Linked DNA regions of Homo sapiens: region 1 is linked to region 2. Evidence: fine-mapped expression QTL. A gene starts in region 2. The other region holds a variant in brackets. All regions are shown on one strand. Distances are between the middles of the regions.

Evidence for each region. PIP is the estimated chance that this variant, and not a neighbour inherited with it, causes the effect. A credible set is the group of variants that fine-mapping cannot tell apart.
Region 1: its variant is the best candidate, but not a certain one, in a credible set for the expression of BLOC1S2 in sun-exposed skin (GTEx, PIP 0.63).

Annotation. Positions count from the first base shown.
Region 1 is chr10:100,104,393-100,116,973 of GRCh38, reverse strand. It overlaps the pseudogene CYP2C23P and the pseudogene TPM4P1. Among named protein-coding and RNA genes, the nearest start is that of CPN1, 29 kb to the right of the region's middle. The variant C/T (reference allele first, on the strand shown) is at 7,100.
Region 2 is chr10:100,282,847-100,290,846 of GRCh38, reverse strand. BLOC1S2 (biogenesis of lysosomal organelles complex 1 subunit 2) reads left to right here and starts at 4,167. Exons shown (of 5, transcript NM_173809.5): 1 at 4,167-4,242; 2 at 4,634-4,750. The coding sequence starts at 4,188. PKD2L1 (polycystin 2 like 1, transient receptor potential cation channel) reads left to right here. Exons shown (of 16, transcript NM_016112.3): 13 at 328-446; 14 at 709-832; 15 at 1,791-1,875; 16 at 2,369-2,698. The coding sequence ends at 2,451. RefSeq lists a silencer at 4,051-4,250 and enhancers at 4,541-4,840, 4,426-4,933.

The DNA.
Region 1 (12,581 bases), 180 kb after region 2:
TTTCCATTCATAAGAATCTCATAGGAACGGAAATCTGATTTTTCATGGTGCATTAAAAAAGGGGGCAAGAGATGGAAATGGTACCTGCAGCTCTAGGGTAATCAAGGCAACTCTCACCTCCTTTAATCTTAATACTCTCCTCTCAGGATCACTTGTACTCCGACATTTGGGATATTGCTGCCTCTGACAGTTAACATTTGTAAAGCACATAGAATTTACCAAAATGTTTACATGCACACTGGGGATGTAGTCAGTCTTACATAGTGATTAAGGGTTTGGGCTTTACATTTAAACAGTTCCAAAGCATAGAGGAGGAAGAAAAGATGCCAAACCTGACCAAAATACTGCAAACAGAAACAGCCGCCAGTCTCACTTACAAATATCAATGCAAAAGTCTATTGATGCATAGGTCTGGCATCATATTAAAAATGCTATACCACTGGCTGGGCACGGTGGCTCACGCCTGTAATCCCAGCACTTTGGGAAGCCGAGGCAGGTGGATCACCTAAGGTCAGGTATTCGAGACCGGCCTGGCCAACATGGTGAAACCCCTCCTCTACTAAAAATACAAAAATTAGCAGGACATGGTGGCACATGCCTATAATCTCAGCTAGTTGGAAGGCTGAGGCAGGAGAATCGCTTGAACCCGGGAGGCGGCAGTTGCTGTGAGCCAAGATCCTGGGCGACAGAGCAAGACTCCGTTTCAAAAAAAAAAGAAAAAACTACACCACTAACACAGGAATCAGGAACATAGCAGTGGTGCAATACCAGGAAATCCATCTTAAGAAAACTGACCATATAAATACAATTTTGTATAAATACAATTTATACAAAATTACATAAATACAGATTATGCAAAATTGTACAAATACAATTTTGACATTACATGATAATCTCATTTGTACAGAAAATGCTTTTAAGAATATTTGACATCCATTCTTGATTTTTCTAACCCTTAGTAAAATAGAAATAGATGAATTTCTCTTAAGTCAATGAAAACACATCTCCCAAATTGTGCTTTTTGGTGAAAGACTGGAAACATTCTCATTAATATTGAGAATAAGATGAGGCTGGCTTACACCTGTAATCCCAGCACTTCGGGAGGCGGTGGCAGGCGGATCACCTAAGGTCAGGAGTTTTAGACAGCCTGGCCAACATGGCGAAACCCTGTCTCCACTAAAAATCCCAAAAAAAAAAAAAAAAAAAAAAAATTTAGCCGGGCTTGGTGGCCCGCGCCTATAGTCCCAGCTACTCAGGAGACTGAGGTAGGAGGATCGCTTGAGCCCAGGAGGTGAAGGTTGCAGTGAGCCAAGATGGCACCACTTGCACTCCAGCCTGGGCGACAGAGTGAAACCCCGTGTCGTAAAAAAATAAAATAAAATAAATAAATAAATAAATAAATAAATAAATAAATAAATAACAAGGCTATTTACCATTACAGTATAGTTCAACTGGAATCAGAAAAAAGTAACAAGAAATAAAACATTTAAAAGATGGAAGCAAAAACTTTAGTTGCTATCATCGTGCCTGAAAAACCCAAGAAAATTGACTCCTATAGTCAGTAGGAACAAATCCCCAAATCAACAGATATCGTGCAAGGGCGGGTGACCTCATCGCCCCGACGGCAGCCGGGCCGGGGCTGGGGGTTGGCGGGGGGTGCGGGGCGGCCCCGGTGCAGGCAAAAGTTCAGGGGCCGAGGCGCGGCCGTGCAGCTGTCGTCCGAACCCGGCCGGGTCCGGGGCGCCCGCCGCAGGCGGTGAAACGCAAGATTCAGGCCCTGCCGCAGCAGGCGGACAAGGCGAAGACTGCGCGCAGGGCCTGCAGCGGCAGCTGGACTGGGGGCGCGAGCGGGGGGCGCGAGCGAGCGGCGCGAGAAAGCTGAAGGCGATGTGGCTGTCCTCGACTGACGCATCCAGCTCTTTTTTTTTTTTTTTTTCTTTTTTTATTATTATTATTATACTTTAAGTTTTAGGGTACATGTGCATCCAGCTCTTTAAGGAGGAGTTGGACGGGGCTCGGGAACGACTGGTCACGGCCCTGCAGAAGCTAGAGGAGGGGGGAAAAGGCTGCAGATGAGCGTGAGAGAGAATGAAGGTGATAGAAAACCGGGCTATGAGGGATGAGGAGAAGATGGATTCGGGAGATGCAGCTCAAAGAGGCCAAGCACACTGCGGCCGGAGGCTGACCGCAAATAAGAGGAGGTAGCTCGGAAACTGGCCATCACAGAGGGCGAACTGGCCAGAGCAGAGGAGCGTGCAGAGGTGTCTGAACTAAAATGTGGTGACCTGGCAGAAGAACTCAAGAATGTCACTAACAATCTGAAACCGCCGGAGGCTGCATTGGAAAGTATTCTGACAAGGAGGACAAATACGAAGAAAAAATTAAACTTCTGTCTGACAACTGAAGGAGGCTGAGATCCGTGCTGAATTTGTAGAGATAATGGTTGCAAAACTGGAAAAGACAACTGATGACCTGGAAGAGAAATTTGCCCAGGCCAAAGAAGAGAGCGCGGGCTTATATCAGACACTGGATCAGGCACTAAATGAACTTGACTGTATATAACCAAAACGGAAGAGCCTTGTTCCAGCAGAAACTCCGGAGCTCCGAGTGTCTTTCTCTTCTCTTGTAAGAAGTTTCTTTTGTTATTGCCATCTTTGTTTTGCTGGAAATGTCAAGCAAATTATGAATACATGACCACATATTTTGTATCAGAAGCTTTGAGCACCAGTTAAATCTCATTTCTTCCTTTTTTTAAAAATGGCACCAGCTTTTTCAGCTCTATTTTTTCCTTTGCGTTGCATTTATTCCTAAGGTAGGCAGGGTATTTCCTAGTAAACGCAGTCTCTTAGGACAGAGGGCGGACAGTCACAGTGGCTCACACCTGTATACCCAGCACTTTAGGGGACTGAAGTGGGTGGATCACTTGAGGTCAGGAGTTCGAGACCAGCCTGGCCAACATGGTGAAACCTCGTCTTTACTAAAAATACAATAATTAGCCGAGCGTGGTGGCACACGCCTGTAATCCCAGCTACTCGGGAGGCTGAAGCAGGAGAATTGCTTGAACCCGGGAGGCGGAGGTTGCAGTGAGCGGAGATTGCACCATTGCACTGCAGCCTGGGCGACAAGAGAACAGGCAACCCCACACTTTGGAGAACACAGACTCCAATATCTAGTAATGGATCTATTTAAAACGCTGAAGAACATAACCATTTGGGTCAACCATTGGTCAGACGACAGGAGAGACCAGGGACCATCACATGGGTGGGGATTTTCCATCCAGAGGCAAAAAAAACAAAAACAAAACAAAACAAAAATGGTGGGTGGGGGTTTGCTGTTGTGGGAAGTCATAAACCACAGATAGATTAACCTAAGCATCCTGGCTCTTCTCCACACTCCACCATGCAGAACAAACATCCTCTCAAGCAGTCAGCATGAGAATGCTTCATAATTACCCACATATTTTCTGGATAGATGCTTGATGTGATGTTCTTCTGCATATTTCTTTCATTCTAAAGTTGTTCTCTGGCCAGGCACAGTGGCTCACGCCTGTAATCCCAACACTTTGGGAGGCCAAGGCAGGTGGATCACCTGAAGTCAGGAATTTGAGACCAGCCTGGCAAAACGGCAAAACCCCGCCTCCACTAAAAATACAAATGCTGGGCATGGTGACACATGCCTGTAGTCCCAGCTACTAGGGAGGCTAAGGTGGGAGAATTGCTTGAATCTGGGAGGTGGAGGTTGCAGTGAGCTGAGATGGCACCACTGTACTCCAGCCTGGGTGACAGAGTGAGACACTCCATCACAAGAAAAAACAAAATCAAAAGTTGTTCTCTGAGGAGCAAGTGTCTCATTCCAATAATGACCCATCCACTCAGCAGGAATATGGTGGAGTTCAGTCCAATTCAAGTCAGCCATATTCAAAAGACTACAAGGCATTAATAAATTGAGCAAAAGAGCTTTGTTCTATTAGCAGAAAGGGCCTCTCTGGCAGCAGAGATTAAAAACTGGCCCAACTTCATTTCCATACTTCAGGAATAGCAAATTGAAGTTTCACTTATGTAGAACTTGAATTCCTTCTTTAGGACCAAGTTGATAAAAGACCAAGAAACTCCTGATTAAACTGGATAATGGAGGATTTTGAAGACGGGGCTGCACATTTTGGCTTCTTTTTACTTTGTTTTCTCAGTTAACATCTCAGAGCTGAAACATTTCACATTCCCCAGCAGCGTGTGGGGGCCAACTCAAGTTTTCAATTCTGACTAAAAATCACCCTGCTTCTGGCTTATCTGAATCCCCTATCCACCCCACCCCACCACCCTACTCCTATTTATTCAGCATCACACTATCCAGGAAATACACTAGCAAATTGTGCTATTGAATAAAATCCATACTTTTCTTAAGATTCTTACAACTGTATCATATGTAATAGTATCACTTTTTCTACATTTTGGTCAAATAAATTTTTACATAAACTAAAAAAAAAAGTGCAAGGGAAACAAAGTTAAAATTTGAGTAAAAGTAATTCAAGGTGATTTTCAAACATAAAAATATACTAACAAAATAAAATATGTTAAAATAAAAGTTGTAAAAGAACATGTTTTTATTTGTCATAATTTGTTGGTAGGATGTTAAAAAAAAAACCCATATTCTTGCCAATATTGTAAATTGATATAACCTCTAGGGAAGGCAATGTGGCAATATTTATCAAAATTCAAAACACATACAACGTGAAGAGTAGTTTCACTACTAGTGTTACTGACCATGGATTCTTGGGCTCTCAATGCAATAGAAATTGACATGAAGTTGAAAGAGCTTTCCCAAACAAGGCCTCATTGGAACTTATGCCCAGACATAAGGAAAGCAGCATGAGTGAGAGAATTCCCTGACTGACTTCCAGAAAAGAGCCGTAGGGCTTTTTTATTAGGCAAAGCGCAGGAATTGACATCAGTGATAGGGTATGGAGGCTGGGCTGGGCAAGGCATGTGAGGGGCAGGAGACACAGGTCAGCGTGATCTGGTTGCTATGTTTATCTTGAGTAAGGGCCACCTGGTGGTCTGGTCGGAGGCAACAAGGCTGTAAATCAGTCGTTCAGCATTCCTTTCTGAGGACAACCTTGGTTATTTCCTAAGGCCACTTCCTGGAATTCTTTAAGGAAAAACACAGGGGATTGGCCGGGCGTGGTGGCTCACGCCTGTAATCCCAGCACTTTGGGAGGCAGGCGGATCACCTGAGGCCAGGAGTTAGAGACCAGCCTGACCAACATGGAGAAACCGCGTCTCTACTAAAAATAAAACATTAGCTGGGTGTGATGGCACACGCCTGTAGTCCCAGCTGCTGGGGAAGCTGAGGCAGGAGAATCGCTTGAACCTGGGAGGCAGAGGTTGTGGTGAGCCAAGATCGCACCATTGCACTCCAGCCTGGGCAACAAGAGCGAAACTCTGTCTCAAAAAACAAAACAAAACCCAGAAAACGTGATGGCATCAGTGAGGTAGTGGAGTAGGTTTTGTGATCAGTGGGGATGCATGAAAGAATGCTCTAGTGTGGCGGGCTGAAGCCAAAAGAAGCCAAGCCCTGTTCCTACTCTCTCACTAGTTTAGCAGTTTATCCTTCATGTATGTTTTCCCCAAAGAATATTTATTACAGCAATATTTTTGACATTTGCTTTTTTTTTTCTTTTTTTTTTTTTGAGACGGAGTTTCGCTCTTTCACCCAGGCTGGAGTGCAATGGTGCGATCTCAGCTCACTGCAACCTCCGCCTCCTGGGTTCAAGCAATTCTCGTGCCTCAGCCTCCTGGGTAGCTGGGATTATAGGCGTGTGCCACCACGCCCAGCTAATTTTTGTATTTTTAGTAGAGATGGGATTTCACCATTGTTGGCCAGGCTGGTCTTGAACTCCTGACCTCAGGTGATCTACCCACCTCAGCCTCCCAAAGTACTGAGATTACAGACATAAGCCACCACGTCCGGCCTAACATTTTTGATGTTTGAAGACTGGACTATCCTTGAATGTCTATTTAAAAAGGACTGCAAACATTCTGATATTTCTATAACATGAAATACTAAGCAAGCTACAGAACACTATAGGATGCTACCATTTATGTGAAAACAATGGCGGCTGTATATGTGTGTGTGTGTGTGTGTGTGTGTTTAATCCATAAGATATCTCCCATGGGATATAAACTGGTAACTGTGACTACATCAAGAAGGAAACCAGGTGTCAAGTATACTGTATAGGAAAGGGATGTCAAGTATACTGTATAGGAAAGGGAGAAAGACTTATTTTCTTGTTTTTGGGTTTTTTTTTTTTTGAGACTGAATTTCTCTCTTGTTGCCCAGGCTGGATTGCAGTGGCAGGATCTTGTTGCCCGGGCTGGAGTGCAGTGGCAGGATCTCGGCTCACTGCAACTTCCGCTTCCCAGGTTCAAGCAATTCTCTGCCTCAGCCTCCTGAGTAGCTGGGATTACAGGTGCCTGCCACCACGACCAGCTAATTCTTGTATTTTTAGTAGAGATGGGGTTTCACCATATTGGCCAGGCTGGTCTCGAACTCCTGACCTCAGGTGATTCACTGGCCTTGGCCTTCCAAAATGCTGGGATTACAGGCGTGAGCCACAGCACCCAGCTAGAAGACTTATTTTCACTTTTTACCCTTGTGTACATATTTTGGTATTGTATACGATGTGCAGATATTACCAACTCTAATAATTGTACAGATAATGTTTAAGGAAATACAAAATGAAGTTGAAATGGAAAAAGGAACTTTTCACTTAAACAGGAGTGCTTTATAATCAGATAGAACTTGGTTTGAATTCTAACTATGCCATGTGACAAAAGCATAATTTCAAGCAAGGTATTTTCTCCTTTCTGAGCCTTGGTTTTTCTCATTTATATAATGTGAAGAACAACAAAAGCAGCTACTGGATATAGTTTATGTGAGAATGAAATGAGATTTATAAACAACTAGGCAGTGTGATATGGTTTGGCTTCATGTCGCCACCCAAATCTCACCTTGAATTGTAATCCCCATAATCCCCACTTGTCAAGGGTGAGACCAGGTGGAGGTAATTGGATCATGGGGGTGGTTTCTCCCATGCTGTTCT[C/T]GTGATAGTGAGTGAGTCTCACGAGAGCTGATGGTTTTATAAGCACCTGGCATTTCCTGCTTGCACTTGCTCCCCTGCTGCCCTGTGGAGGAGGTGTTTGCTTCTCTTTTGCCTTCTGCTATGATTGTAAGTTTTCTGAGGCCTCCCCAGCAATACAGAACTGTGAGTCAATTTAACCTCTTTCCTTTATAAATTACCCAGTCTTGGGTATTTCTTCATAGCACTGTGAGAACAGACTAATACAGAGTGTCAGGCAAATGTAAAGCATCCAATATTATTTGGTCATTTAAGCCTCACAAAGATTGTATGAGGCAAGGAGGAAAGCTGGCTGCTGTTGTCATAATTATCATGGTTGTTACCCTACCCCAATTTACAAGCGAGGAAAGTAGAGTTTGATTCAATAGCATCAAGGTTCCAGATCTCATTTTCTTTCATTCACACCTGAATCCAGAAAGAAAAAAAACAGTAAAAAAAAAGTCAGTTCTTATGATTTAAGGCAGCAATTCCAGTAAAGCTGCTTTCTAGACAGTATGGTTGCAAACTCCAGTTTTTCACATTGACCATAATAATACTTTTCCTGCAGAGAACCATCTGATTACTAGATAAAAGCTATTGTATGACAGTGTGTGTAAAATAGCCATAAATTGAGACCATCACTCACAGGCAAGCTTAAGAATGCTCAGTCCTGTTAAATCCACTATAATTAAGAGTGTTGGCTGGGCGCAATGGCTCGTGCCTGCCAACACTTAGGGAGGCTGAGGTGGGCAGATCGCTTGAGCTCAGGAGTTCAAGACCAGCCTGGGCAACATGATGAAACCCTGTCTCTACAAAACATACAAAGATTAGCTGGGTGTGGTGGCACTTGCCTGTACTTGGGGGGCTAAGGTGGGAGGATCACTTGAGCCTGGGAGGTCGAGGCCACAGTGAGCCAGACTGCACTCCAGCCTGGGAGACAGAGTGAGATCTTGTCTCAAAAAAAAAAAAAAGTGTTAAGCCAGGTGTGGTGGCTCGCACCTGTAATTCCAACACTTTGAGAGGCCAAGGTGGGAGGATAGCTTAAGCCCAGGAGTTCAAGACTAGTTCTGGCAACATAGCAAGACCCTGTCTCTACAGAAAATAAAATAATTGGCCAGGCATGGTGGCACACACCTGTATTCCTAGCTACTCAGGAGGCTGAGATATGAGGATCACTTGAGCCTGGAAGATTGAGGCTGCAATGAGCTGTGATCACGCCACTGCACTCCAGTCTGGGTGACAGAGCATAACCTGTCTTTTTTTTTTTTTAAAAGTATTTTTGACTTGTTTATGAACCAAAAATAAACAATAAGCATAATAAAGTGCTCCTGTGCTCTCCATTTCTTGGCTCCAAGACTACTGTGTTGCCATTATTGTCTCTGGTCTTGTTCAGTTACAAGCAGTTTCCCAAAATGTCTTGGGTCAAACTTAGGACACTTTCTGGATAAAAATGGCTGCTTCAACAAAACAGATTACTTTTTGCCGTTTTCCCTTGGTAAATACAAATAAACCCATGCAGACCAACACCTGCACATTTTGGACAATTTTTTAGCTTCACTTAGTTTTTGGCGTAATTAAGTAATCCACTGAGAATAGCAAAGGCAATCAAACTATGATAAACTCCCAAATCTAGATGGAGCCATTTAAGTCTGTACACTAATAGAATCAGGCAGTCATCCAAAGACTGATTTGTCATTTTGTAATTGAATATAATGAGTTTTTAAAGAAACCAAAGCAAGTCAATCCAATTTAGATGTCACACATTACCAAATGACAAAGGGACCTGCTTTTGCAAACTTTCTTTTTTGATCTCCCCTTTGTAATACTGACTTCTCCAAAACAAAATGTACAGGTTTCTTTCTTTGTTTTAAATGTTAACTGTTGTTAATTTTCTGTTTCTTGGAGCCAGAGGCCATCAAAGACCCTTGGCCACTGCATCTTCCTTCTTCCCCTCTGAAATTCAGAGCCTCACACGTCCCCGCCTTTATACAAGAGCTGCTTGGCTCCAGTCACGATTTCCCAGAAGGTGGCAAAGATGATTTAAGATTGGCCAACACACATTTTTTTTCTCCCCTGTTATCTTATGCATTCATTTGATTAATATTTTCAAAAATAACATTTAATATGTTTTGTTTCTTTGAGACAGGGTCTTGCTCTGTTGCCCAGGCTGGAGTGCAGTGGTGCAATCACAGCTCACTGTAACCTTAAACTCCTGGGCTCAAGGGATCCTCCCACCTTAGCCTCCTGAGTAGCTAGGACTACCGATGTGGGCCACCATGCCCAGCTAATTTTTTTTTTTTTTTTTTTTTTTGTAGACATGGGCTCTTGCTATGTTGCCCAGGCTAGTCTCGAGCTCCTGGCCTCAAGCAATCTTCTCACCTAGGCCTCCCAAAGCACTAGGATTACAGATGTCAGCCACTGCACCCAGCCAATATGTTTTGTTTCTAATTACAATGATAATAAATATTCAATATAAAAAATGGAACATGCAGAAAAGCAACAGGAGAAAGAAGTTACCTGCAATTTTGCCTTACAGATAATCACTTAATATTTTACTGTATATACATCAAAAGATTTCTATGTATGTTACAGTAAGTAGGTAGACACGAGCAGGGCAAGAGAGCCGCCCTCCCACACCTGGAATGTCAGGCGACCATCAGGTGATGGTTAGGCAGTTGTTAACTCTCTCTCCAAAATAATAATTGGTGGCAGCCAGCGCCAGGGAAAGGTAGTCTCCCAAGAGAAAACACCTGAAGCTGGTGAAGAGCTCAGGAATTGGGTGAGTGGGCTCAAGCATGCGCACTAAGAAGCAAAATGGCTGAGTTTAACTGGCACATGACCACCTTCTGGGAACACTCGACTGGTGAGAGATCAGAACCTCAAGTGAGTATGCGCACAACTTCAGCAAACACACTGCACATGTGGCCCCTCGCAAGCGCTAGCAGGCGACTGTGCACATGCGGACAGCCCACCCCAGGGGAAGAATATGGGGAGAAAGGAGGCAATTCCCAGAAGCATGCCAATGTATAAAACCCCAAGCCGAAAGTCAAGCCACACACTTGAATCTCTCAAGTCGCCCGCTTGGCCCTCTTTGTCCCTGCTCTAAAAACTTTTTAATAAACTTTCACTCCTGCTCTAAACTTGCCTCGGTCTCCTTACGTTCCTCCTCTGTTGAATTCTTTCTTCTGAAGAGGTAAGGATTGAGGGTGCTGCATACCTGTATGAATTTGTCACTGCTAACAGGTATATATAATCTATATTTTTACTTTTACTTATCTAATTATTTTTTAGAGACAGGGTCTCACTCTGTCACCCAGAGTGCCATGGTATGATCGTGGCTCACTGAAGTTCTGAATTCCTGGGCTCAAGTGATCCCCACACCTTAGCCTCCCGAGTAGCTGGAACTACAGGTGTGTGCCACCACACCTGGCAAAATCTTTTTTTTTTTTTTTTTTTTTTTTTTTTTTTTGTAGAGACAGGGTCTTGCTATGTTGCCTGCGCTGGTTTTGAACTCCTGAGCTCAAGCGAACTTCCCACGTTGGCCTCCCAATGTAATAGGAATACAAGTGTGAGCCACCATGCCCGGCTCTTGTAGTGTATATTTTAAAAATAAAATTTGGTACATTCTGTACAATCTATTTGATATTCTGCTTTCACTTAGTATATTGTGATAAAAAACAGTCTATGCTATTAATCCATATAGACATTTTTAGGTTGTGTGTTAGAGGCACAATGATTTACAGTCTATTATAGATAGATGTATAGGTTTCATCTAATTCATCAATATTGTAAATAATTATGCAAATGATAGCCTCATAGGTAAATCTCTATTTCTTACAGATAAATTGTCAAAAGGAGAATCACTGAATTGAAGAGTGAAAATTTCTTTAGAGTGTTTTGATGTGTATTGAAAAATACTCCTCTAGAAAAACTATACTGATTTATGTCCTCCAGCAGTTTATGAGAGTCCCTTTCTGATTAGTGTTTCCAATGGCTTTTAGGGGCATATTGTATTTTAACATGAAGAGAACTAATGGAAGTGTTCCTTCCTTCCAGGAAAGCGAGCCTGTGTTGGAGAGAGCCTGGCCCACATAGAGCTGTTCCTATTTTTATTTTTTTAAAATAAATTATTTGCTCTTTGTTGTTGAGACAGGGTCTCCCTCTGTCACTCAGGCTGGAGCGCAGTGGCACAGTCATGGCCCACTGCAGCCTCCACCTCCCTGACTCAATTGATCCTCCCACTTCAGCCTCCCAAGTAGCTGGAACTATAGACATGTGCCACCATGCCCCAGCTAATTTTCTTAATTTTTTTTTTTTTTTGTAGAGATGCGGTTTCACTATGTTTCCAAAGCTGATATTGAACTTTTGGGTTCAATCCCACCTCAGCTTCCCAAAGTGCTAGGATTACAGGCATGAGCCATCCCACCCGTCTCCTTTAAATCTTGAATTATTGAATAGCAGTAAGAGCCTAAGCCTTAGGTCAATGTGGAAGCAACATGTAACCTCCAACTCTCCTCCAGGCCCTGGTCTACACAGAGCTGTCTGGAGATCTGCCCTTGCTCCTGAACCCTTGATTTTCTTAGAATTCCAATCCCCTAAATCCAGTCATTTGACTCACTAGGAAACTGAGGCCAGCATGCCAGTAGGGAGTGCCTCCACCCCTGGAGAAGATGATTCTTTAGAAAATTTCCAAAATGTACCTAGTACCAATAAATGACCTGCCTGGTTCCCTGATCTTTCCTTTGCCACGTAGAGGCTTCTGGATAATTTTGGTCCTCAGTTCACTATTGGGAATCTTCTGTAGCATCCACTCCAAATTAAGAAGATTCACACAATGAACCTAAAATTCATATGAAAATGCAAGGGACTAAGAGTAGTAAAAACAATCTTGAAAGAAGAACAAAATATAAAACTACAGTCATTAAAACTGTGTGTTCCCTGCTAGTCTAGTGACCAGGGAAAAAAACCCAAACAACTGTGTGATATTGGCATAAGGACAGACATATAGACTGAGTGTCCACAAAGGAACCCCCACATTTATGATGAAGCGATTTTCAACAAGGGTATCAAGACAACTTTATGGAGAACAGTCCTTTCCACAAAGGTGCTGCGATAATGGTGTATCCACATGGCAGAAGGATAAAGTTAGACCTCTTCCTTAAACCAAGTACAAAAATTAACTCCAAATGAATCATAGACTTAAATGTAAGCATTAAAACTATAACTCTCAGAAGATGTATTAGTCTATTCTCATGCTGTGAATAAAGACATACCTGAGACTGGGTAATTTATAAAGGAAAGAGGTTTAAGTGACTCACAGTACCACATGTGAGTCAATTAAAGGCCTGGGGAGGCCTCACAATCATGGTAGAAGGAAAAGGAGAAGCAAAAGCATGTCTTACATGGCAGCAGACAAGAGAACGTGTGCAGGCAAACTCCCCTTTAGAAAACCGTCAGATGCCACGAG
Region 2 (8,000 bases):
AAGTCAAAGGCAGGGTGACAGCAGCCTAGAAAGTGCCAAGAACACTGGTAGTGTCCCTCCTCTGCTAAAATGAGTTGGCCTCTAGTAAATACCTCATCCATCAAGCCTTCTAGGATCTTGTGTTTTCTTTGAGAGGTGACTCCTCCAGAGGTTGGTCCAGCACCACCACCCTGACCCTATTGTCTCCAGAGTCTGGGAGGGAAGGGGAATAGCAAGAACTAGGACCTGAGCCTTGGTCCTGAGATCCCAGTAGAGTAGGTGATAGAACAGGAGCTGATGGCTTCCCAGAGTTATCTCCTCCCCTCTAACCTCTGACTTCCTGAGCAGGTGGCCCTCAACACTGAGATTGAGAAACTAGGCCGATCTATTGTGAGCAGCCCACAAGGCAAATCGGGTCCAGAGGCTGCCAGAGCAGGAGGCTGGGTTTCAGGAGAAGAATTCTACATGTACGTGCAGCCAAGAAAGGCTGGTTCAGGGCTGGCAACACTTCTATTACGATACCCTGTCTTGTACTTTTCCCACAACTTTCCAATTCTCTGTCCTACCCCAGGGAGAACCTCCGCTCCCCTTTAATTCTGCCTACAAGGCTGGGTCTTCCCTTCCTTGTTCCATTCAGGACACATGCCCTTCTGTGAACCCTGGCTCTTTAGACATCCAGCCCCCAGACACAGATTTCTGCTCCATTCGTCTCTCTCAAATCCCACACAGGCTCACAAGGAGAGTTCTGCAGCTGGAGACTGTCCTGGAAGGAGTAGTGTCCCAGATTGATGCTGTAGGCTCAAAGCTGAAAATGCTGGAGAGGAAGGGGTGGCTGGCTCCCTCCCCAGGCGTGGTGAGTGGCCCTTCACCTGGTCCTCCTAGTTCCTCACAGCTGAACTCTGCCATCTTTTCCACTCAGTGGGTGGGGCAAGAACATTTTTGAAAGACCTATGTTTTCAGGCTCCTGGGGAAACATGTTCATAGCGGTTAGTGTATCAGCAGAGATGGGTCATGGAGATAAGGCCTGGAAGTTGCTTGCCCTGGCCTAAGGGCTGCCTTGGCCACATGAGATGGTCTGTGTCAGTCTGTTTGGGCTGATATAATAAATTATCATAGACTGGGTGGCTTATAAGCAACACAAATTTGTTCCTCACAGTTTGGGAGGCTGGGAAGTCTAAGATCAAGGTGCCAGTAGATTCAGTATCTGTTGAGGGCCCACTTCCTGATTCATAGAGAGCTGTCTTCTTGCTGTGCCCTTTCATGGTGGAAGGGGTAAGGGAAGTCTCCTTTATTTTATTTTTTTATTTTATTTATTATTATTATTATTTGAGATGGAATTTTACTCTTGTTGGCCAGGCTGGAGTGCAATGGCACGATCTCGGCTCACTGCAACCTCCGCCTCCTGAGTTCAAGTGATTCTCCTGCCTCAGCCTCCCAAGTAGCTGGGATTACAGGCATGTGCCACCATACCCAGCTAATTTTGTATTTTTAGTACAGATGGGGTTTCTCCATATTGGTCAGGCTGGTCTCGAACTCCTGACCTCAGGTGATCCACCCACCTCGTCCTCCCAAAGTGCTGGAATTACAGGCGTGAGCCCACTCATAAGGGCTACATACTCACTATCTAATCCCCTGCCAAAGGCCCCACCTCCTAATACTATCACATTGGGGGTTACAATTTTAACGGATGAATTTGGGAGGGACGCAAACAGTCTATAGCAGTCTGAGTTCTCTGGAATCAGATAGAGAGAAAAGAAAAGTGGTACACAAACTATTTCTTCAAATGATTTGTCCCTTTCTTCTTCCAACAGAAGGAACAAGCTATTTGGAAGCACCCGCAGCCAGCCCCAGCTGTGACCCCAGACCCCTGGGGAGTCCAGGGTGGGCAGGAGAGTGGTGAGGAAGGGGGCCTAAAGCATCAGACAGCAGGCTTCCCTCCCTCTGCCTCCGCACAGGCCCCCTCGCCACATCCCCTGCACTTCTAGGACAACAGGTCCCATCATGGCTGCTGCTGAGCCCCACCCTGCATCTGGCCTTTTGAGCCAATGTTTCTGTGTGTGGTGGGCATCATGCTTAGGCTTGTGAATCAGTGTTTCTGTGTGTTGCCACATAGCTCTGTGAAATAACGTCTTCCACTGGGCCTTTTACTCCCTGTGTACTTAGCTCTGTGTGTTAATTAAAAAAAAAAAAGTTAACAAACAGGATAAAGAGAGGGAGGGTAATGGCTCTTCCTAAGCACCTGGATAGCCATGGTCTGTGAAAAAGGTAGAAACCAAGAGAGTAGGCGGTATCTAGATGTCTTCCTACTTCCCAGTGAATCCTATTCTTATCCTTTGTGCATCCCAAGATTTGTTGCTAGCACCCATGGGTTTCTCGTTTTCCCCCACAGAGGTTCCCTATAAAAGAGAAGAGGAAGCCTTAGAGGAGAGGAGACTCTCCCGTGGTGAGATTCCAACGTTGCAGAGGAGTTAAGTGTGAGGCACTCCCGGAGCAAAGTCTATGAAGGATCTTCTGCAAGAGGCTGCCTCCTGGTCCACTGAACCTGGAAACTGAGTGGGCTTTAACCAGGAGATAAAAATGGAGCCTGAAGGGAATCAGGCAAGGAAATGAACTCAGGATTCAGAGATCTTTGAATTAATATGTGGTGGGTTCTGACATTATTCTTCCATAAGACCATGTGGGTTTCCATGGTGGCTATCAATAAAACTCCTTAGGAAAACTTGGACTTTGCATTTGCTTCTGGTATTATAGAGGGAAGAAAGGCTGAAATTGTGGGTCATCCATGTGCCTGGGCTGGAATAGGTTCATGCTCTCTAGGAGGTATAGAGTAGGTGCAGTGATGTGAAGGAGCTGGGCTATAAGAACTTCTAGGCCTAGCACAGTGACTCACGCTTGTAATCCCAGCACTTTGGGAGGCTATGTTGGGTGGATCACTTGAGGCCAGAAGTTCCAGACAAGCCTGGGCAAAATGCTGAAATCCTGTCTTTAATAAAAATACAAACAAATTAGCCAGGTGTGGTGGCGCGTGCCTGTTATCCCAGCTACTTGGGAGGCTGAGGCATGAGAATCGTTTGAACTCGGGAGGTGGAGGTTGCAGTGAGCTGAGCCGAGATCACGTTACTGTACTCCAGCCTGGGTGACAGAGCGAGACTCTGTTTCAAAAAAAAGAACTTCTGGCTCGCAGGAATGGCTTGAAATAGTGGCTACTATGGTTGCACCATAGGAAAAGTGGGGACAGGTGACAAGTGAGACTCAGTCCTCAGGGTGGAGACAGTCAGGGTAGGAGGGCTGGGGATAAGGGGTAGCTGGCGTGTGTGTGTATGTACTGGCATCGGGGTGGGGTGAGAGGGTGCAGAGGGAGGATAACCAGGGATAAGAAAAGAAACTACCAAGATTTTGGGTGTCCAGGAGCCTGCCTGAGGCCTGCTGAATATCTCCTATCCCTTCTTCTGTGGCCTTTATCCCTCCTCATTTTGCACCTTCAATTGCTCCCCAGTCACTTCTTCTCATCCATCTCTTTCACTCACTCCTGTTCTCCCATCCCATTAAGTACTCTGTACACCTAGGAGGCTTGTGAAACAGCTTAAATGCAATTAAGATAACCAGAGTGTATCCTCAGCCCTAAAAAAGTTACAGTCTAAGCTTTCTTCAAGGAAGGCTGTATCAACTGAAGAGAAGTAGATGCCTGCCTGCAGTTTAAGAAATAGGGGCCAGTGAGTTGGTGTTAACTCAGGACATTGGGAGGGACAGTATTTAGGACCAGGGATCAATGCCTGAAGGTTTCCCAAAGTGTGGACGAGACAACCTGTAAAACTTTGGATTCCCTGAGCAATCTTTTGATGACTAACTCCAGTGCGGAGTGTCAGGAGAGCGGGCAATCCGTCTTCAGTGGTTTTGGTCAGCAGGCCACAAACAGGGTTGACTATTCCCAGACGGGTCGTGAGTGGTACAAGATGAGTGATCCCTCCAGGGTGTGACTGTAGGGATGAGCTCGCCCTCAGTCCCAGACGTCGCGACTGTTGGCAGTGGATCAATTCACAACAGCCTGGCGTAGCTTCAATTTCGGCTCCGGAATCGCCCTTTGCTGTGTCATAGACCTGAGGCTGGACTGGACCGCTAGGCGCAGGACTGCAGGGCCGGCCGGGTGGGCGGGGCACACCCAGTGCGCATGCGCAGCACCCCGGCCCGGAAACAGCGCGGGGTCCGCTATGGCGGCGGCAGCCGAGGGCGTACTGGCGACCCGGAGTGATGAGCCCGCCCGAGGTACCCGGAATGGATGGGGAGGAAGCGTCCGGTGGGGGGCCTGGGGCTCCGTCTCGGGTGGGCGAGGTTGAGTGTGTGGTGGCTCACCTGGCAGGAACGGGCTGGTGAGAGGAGTGCACTTGTCGCTGCGCGCGAGTGTTTGTCCTGTCAGGGTGACTGGGATGGTGCCAGGATGAGCGGGGGTGCCGGGTATGGGCGAGGGGCGGTGCGAGGGAGGCGAGTTGATGTGTCAGATGGGCAGGGACGCAGTGAAGGACTTGAAATTATGGCAGATGGAGAATGGAGCCGACTTGATGGAATGAAGGCAAGTGGAGGGATGTCGGAACAGGCTGCTTTGGCTGGATTAGCACCGGGTGTAGGCGGGACACTTAGTCATTCTCCCTTGGCCCAGACGATGCCGCCGTGGAGACAGCTGAGGAAGCAAAGGAGCCTGCTGAAGCTGACATCACTGAGCTCTGCCGGGACATGTTCTCCAAAATGGCCACTTACCTGACTGGGGAACTGACGGGTGAGGCGGGGTCTGGGTTGATTCGGGTGCGGTTTGGCCCAGGAGGCCTGGGAGATGGTTAGCAGCATCAGTCTGCAGCTCCCTTCCTACCCTGCATGCCCTGAGACAGGCCTGTTGGAAGTTGGGGGAGGCCATGAATGGGAGAGAAAGAAAATACAACTCTGCAGGCCTCTGTAACATAGACTAATGAGAAAACAATAACAAAAAAGAGTTCATATCCAGCAACAGTAATCAAGAAGTGCTTCCTTGGGGAAAGTGTATTTTGAGCAGGGTTGTGAAGGGAATTATTGGTGGAAAAGGGGGAGATGATACAACTAGCGAATGAGGTGGTATGTGCAAGCAGTGTGTTTGGCTAAAGCAGAAGATGTGTTTACCGGGATAAAGAGAAATGAAATTGAGGAACGGGGAGTGACCTGCAGATTTAGGGACCTATTAGTTTGGTCTGAGGATTTGATAACCCATCCTTTGGGACATGACTAGTGTTTGATCGTTTCCAAGTGGACACATGACCTATGTGTGGAGGAGGATCAGAAAGTGAAGTATGGGCAGGGCGCGGTGGCTCATGCCTTTAATCCCAGAGGCCGAGGCTGGTGGATCACTTGAGGTCAGGAGTTTGAGACCAGCCTGGGCAAAATGGCGAAATCCTGTCTCCACTAAAAATACAAAAATTAGCCGGCCGTGGTGGCGGGCGCCTGTAATCCCAGCTACTGGGGAGACTGGGGCAGGAGAATCGCTTGAACCCAGGAGGTGGAGGTTGCAGGTTGCAGTGGACTGAGATCACACCACTTGCACTCCAGCCTGGGCGACAGAGTGTGACTCCATCTCAAAAAAAATGAGAAAGAAAAAAGAAAAAGAAAGAAAGTGAAGTCTGGTCCAGTACAGCATCTCAAAAACATTTATTAAATTGTTTCACTTCCCCAGGAAATTACTGTAAGCTAAATTTGTGAATCAGAATCTATGAGAAAAGGCTTGATACAGAATAGTAGGGGTTGTGAATCTGTAATTTTTTTTTTTCTTTTTCTGTTTTTAAGAGACAGGGTCTCACTATGTTGCCTGGGCTGGTCTTGAACTCCTGAGCTCAAGTGATCCTCTTTCCATCTATTTTGGTTGATGGCACCACCCAGGCTTAAAACCCCAGATACATCTTAGTCTGCTTCCATCCCTCAATATCTACTTGAACAAGTCCTATAAATTCCACTTCTGTAATGTTCTTGCACCCATGCTCTCCTTTCCATTCCTTTTACCACCACTCTGCCTGAGATCTTCATTACTTTTCTTTTATTATTATTATTATTTAAAAAAATATGGCCAGGCACGGTGGCTCATGCCTGTAATCCCAGCACTTCGGGAGGCCTAGGCAGGTGGATCACCTGAGGTCAGGAGTTCCAGACCAGCCTGCTCAACATGGCAAAACCCTGCTTCTACTAAAAATACAAAAATTAGCCAGGTGTGGTGGCACACGCCTATAATCCCAGCTACTCAGGAGGCTGACACGGGAGAATCGCTTGACCTGAGAGGTGGAGGTTATAGTGAGCTGTGATCGTGCCATTGCACTCCAGCCTGGGTGATGGAGGGAGACTCTGTCCTAAATAAATAAATAATAGAGATGAGGTCTGCTCCGTTGCCCAAGCTGGCCTCAAGTGATCCTAACACCTCAGCTTCCCAAAATGCTGGGATTACAGGTGTGAGCCACTGCACCCAGCTGTGACTCTGTAAGTTATCAGCCTGATTATTTGTTTGTTTATTTTTGAGCAAGAGAAACCAAGTAACAAAATGTAGGTGTTTGGCTTCTCTTTAACAATTCCAAAGATTTGGCGCTACTAGCCCCTGCATTCTTTCAAGGCTATAATTGACTAGAGCTGAGCAGCTGCCTCTTAAAAGGACTAGTGCTATCTAATTTGTCCTTACCACTTTCTGTTTTCTCCCTTTACTGGGAACTAGTGTCAAGTGCCATTGATCACTGTTCTCTACTGTTATTTTTATTAGTAGCAGTACAGAAATGGTTTTCTATACCAATGGCTCTATCAAAACTGGTAAAGTAAATGATGGGCTAAGAGGATTGCATATTGCAAGAAGTAAGGGGAAGCACATTTCTTCATGGAAGTGAATAATTTTCTTATGCATTTAATGTGCAAGCACTTGGCTTACTTTACTCATTTACGTTATCTTGCTGGCTTCTAGGTGTTTGAATATGTCACCCTTGTTTTATTTTATTTTATTTAGACGGAGTTTTCGCTTTTGTTGCCCAGGCTGGAATGCAGTGGTGCAATCTCGGCTCACTGCAACCTCCGTCTCCCAGGTTCAAGCAATTTTCCTGCCCCAGCCTCCAAAGTAGCTGGGATTACAAGCACACGCCACCACGCCTGGCTAATTTTTATTTTTATTTTTAGTAGAGATGAGGTTTTGCCATGTCAGCCAGGCTGGACTTGAACTCCTGACCTCAAGTGATCTGCCCACCTTGGCCTCCCAAAGTGCTGGGATTACAGGCATGAGGCGCAATGCCTAGCTGTGACCTTTGTTTTAGAGAGACTAATTTGATAGCAGTATAAATATGAGAGTGTAGATATGGGGGAGAGAGAACAGAGAGAGATGAGCAATAATTCAGATGAAAAGTAATAGAGGACCAGGCACCGTGGCTCATGCCTGTAATCCTAGCACTTTGGGAGGCAGGAGAATTGCTTGAGGCCAGTAGTTTAAGACCAGCCTGGGCAACATAGCACGACTCCATCCTTGTAGTCTTGTCTTTTCCCCTACCATCCAGAGGTTACATGCTCCAAGTAATCTAATAATAATAAAAGAAAAGAAAAGTAATGAAGATCTGAGGCAGAGTGGTGGTAAAAGGAATGGAAAGGAGAACATGGGTGCAACAGCATTACAGAAGTGGACTTTATAGGACTTGTTTAAGTAGATATTGAGGGATGGAAGCAGACCAAGATGTATCTGAGGTTTTAAGCCTGGGTGGTGCCATCAGCCAAAATAGCTGGAAAGAGGAACCATGTTTAGTGTGAAAATGTTTTCAGTTTTGGGTTGGCTGCTTGTTGATGTAACTAGGGAACTCAGGTGACTTGTACATTGGATTCCAGAGCTCAGAGATTGATCAGAGCACAAGAAACAGATTTCGGAGTCACTTTCGTAGTGGTGTGATTGGACGCTGTGCAGGATGAGATTGCCAAGGAAGAGCTTAGAAGTAGGTAAGAGAGCCTAGGCTAAAATGTCAGGGAATGCCTGTATGGTGCACTTAATTTGTTTT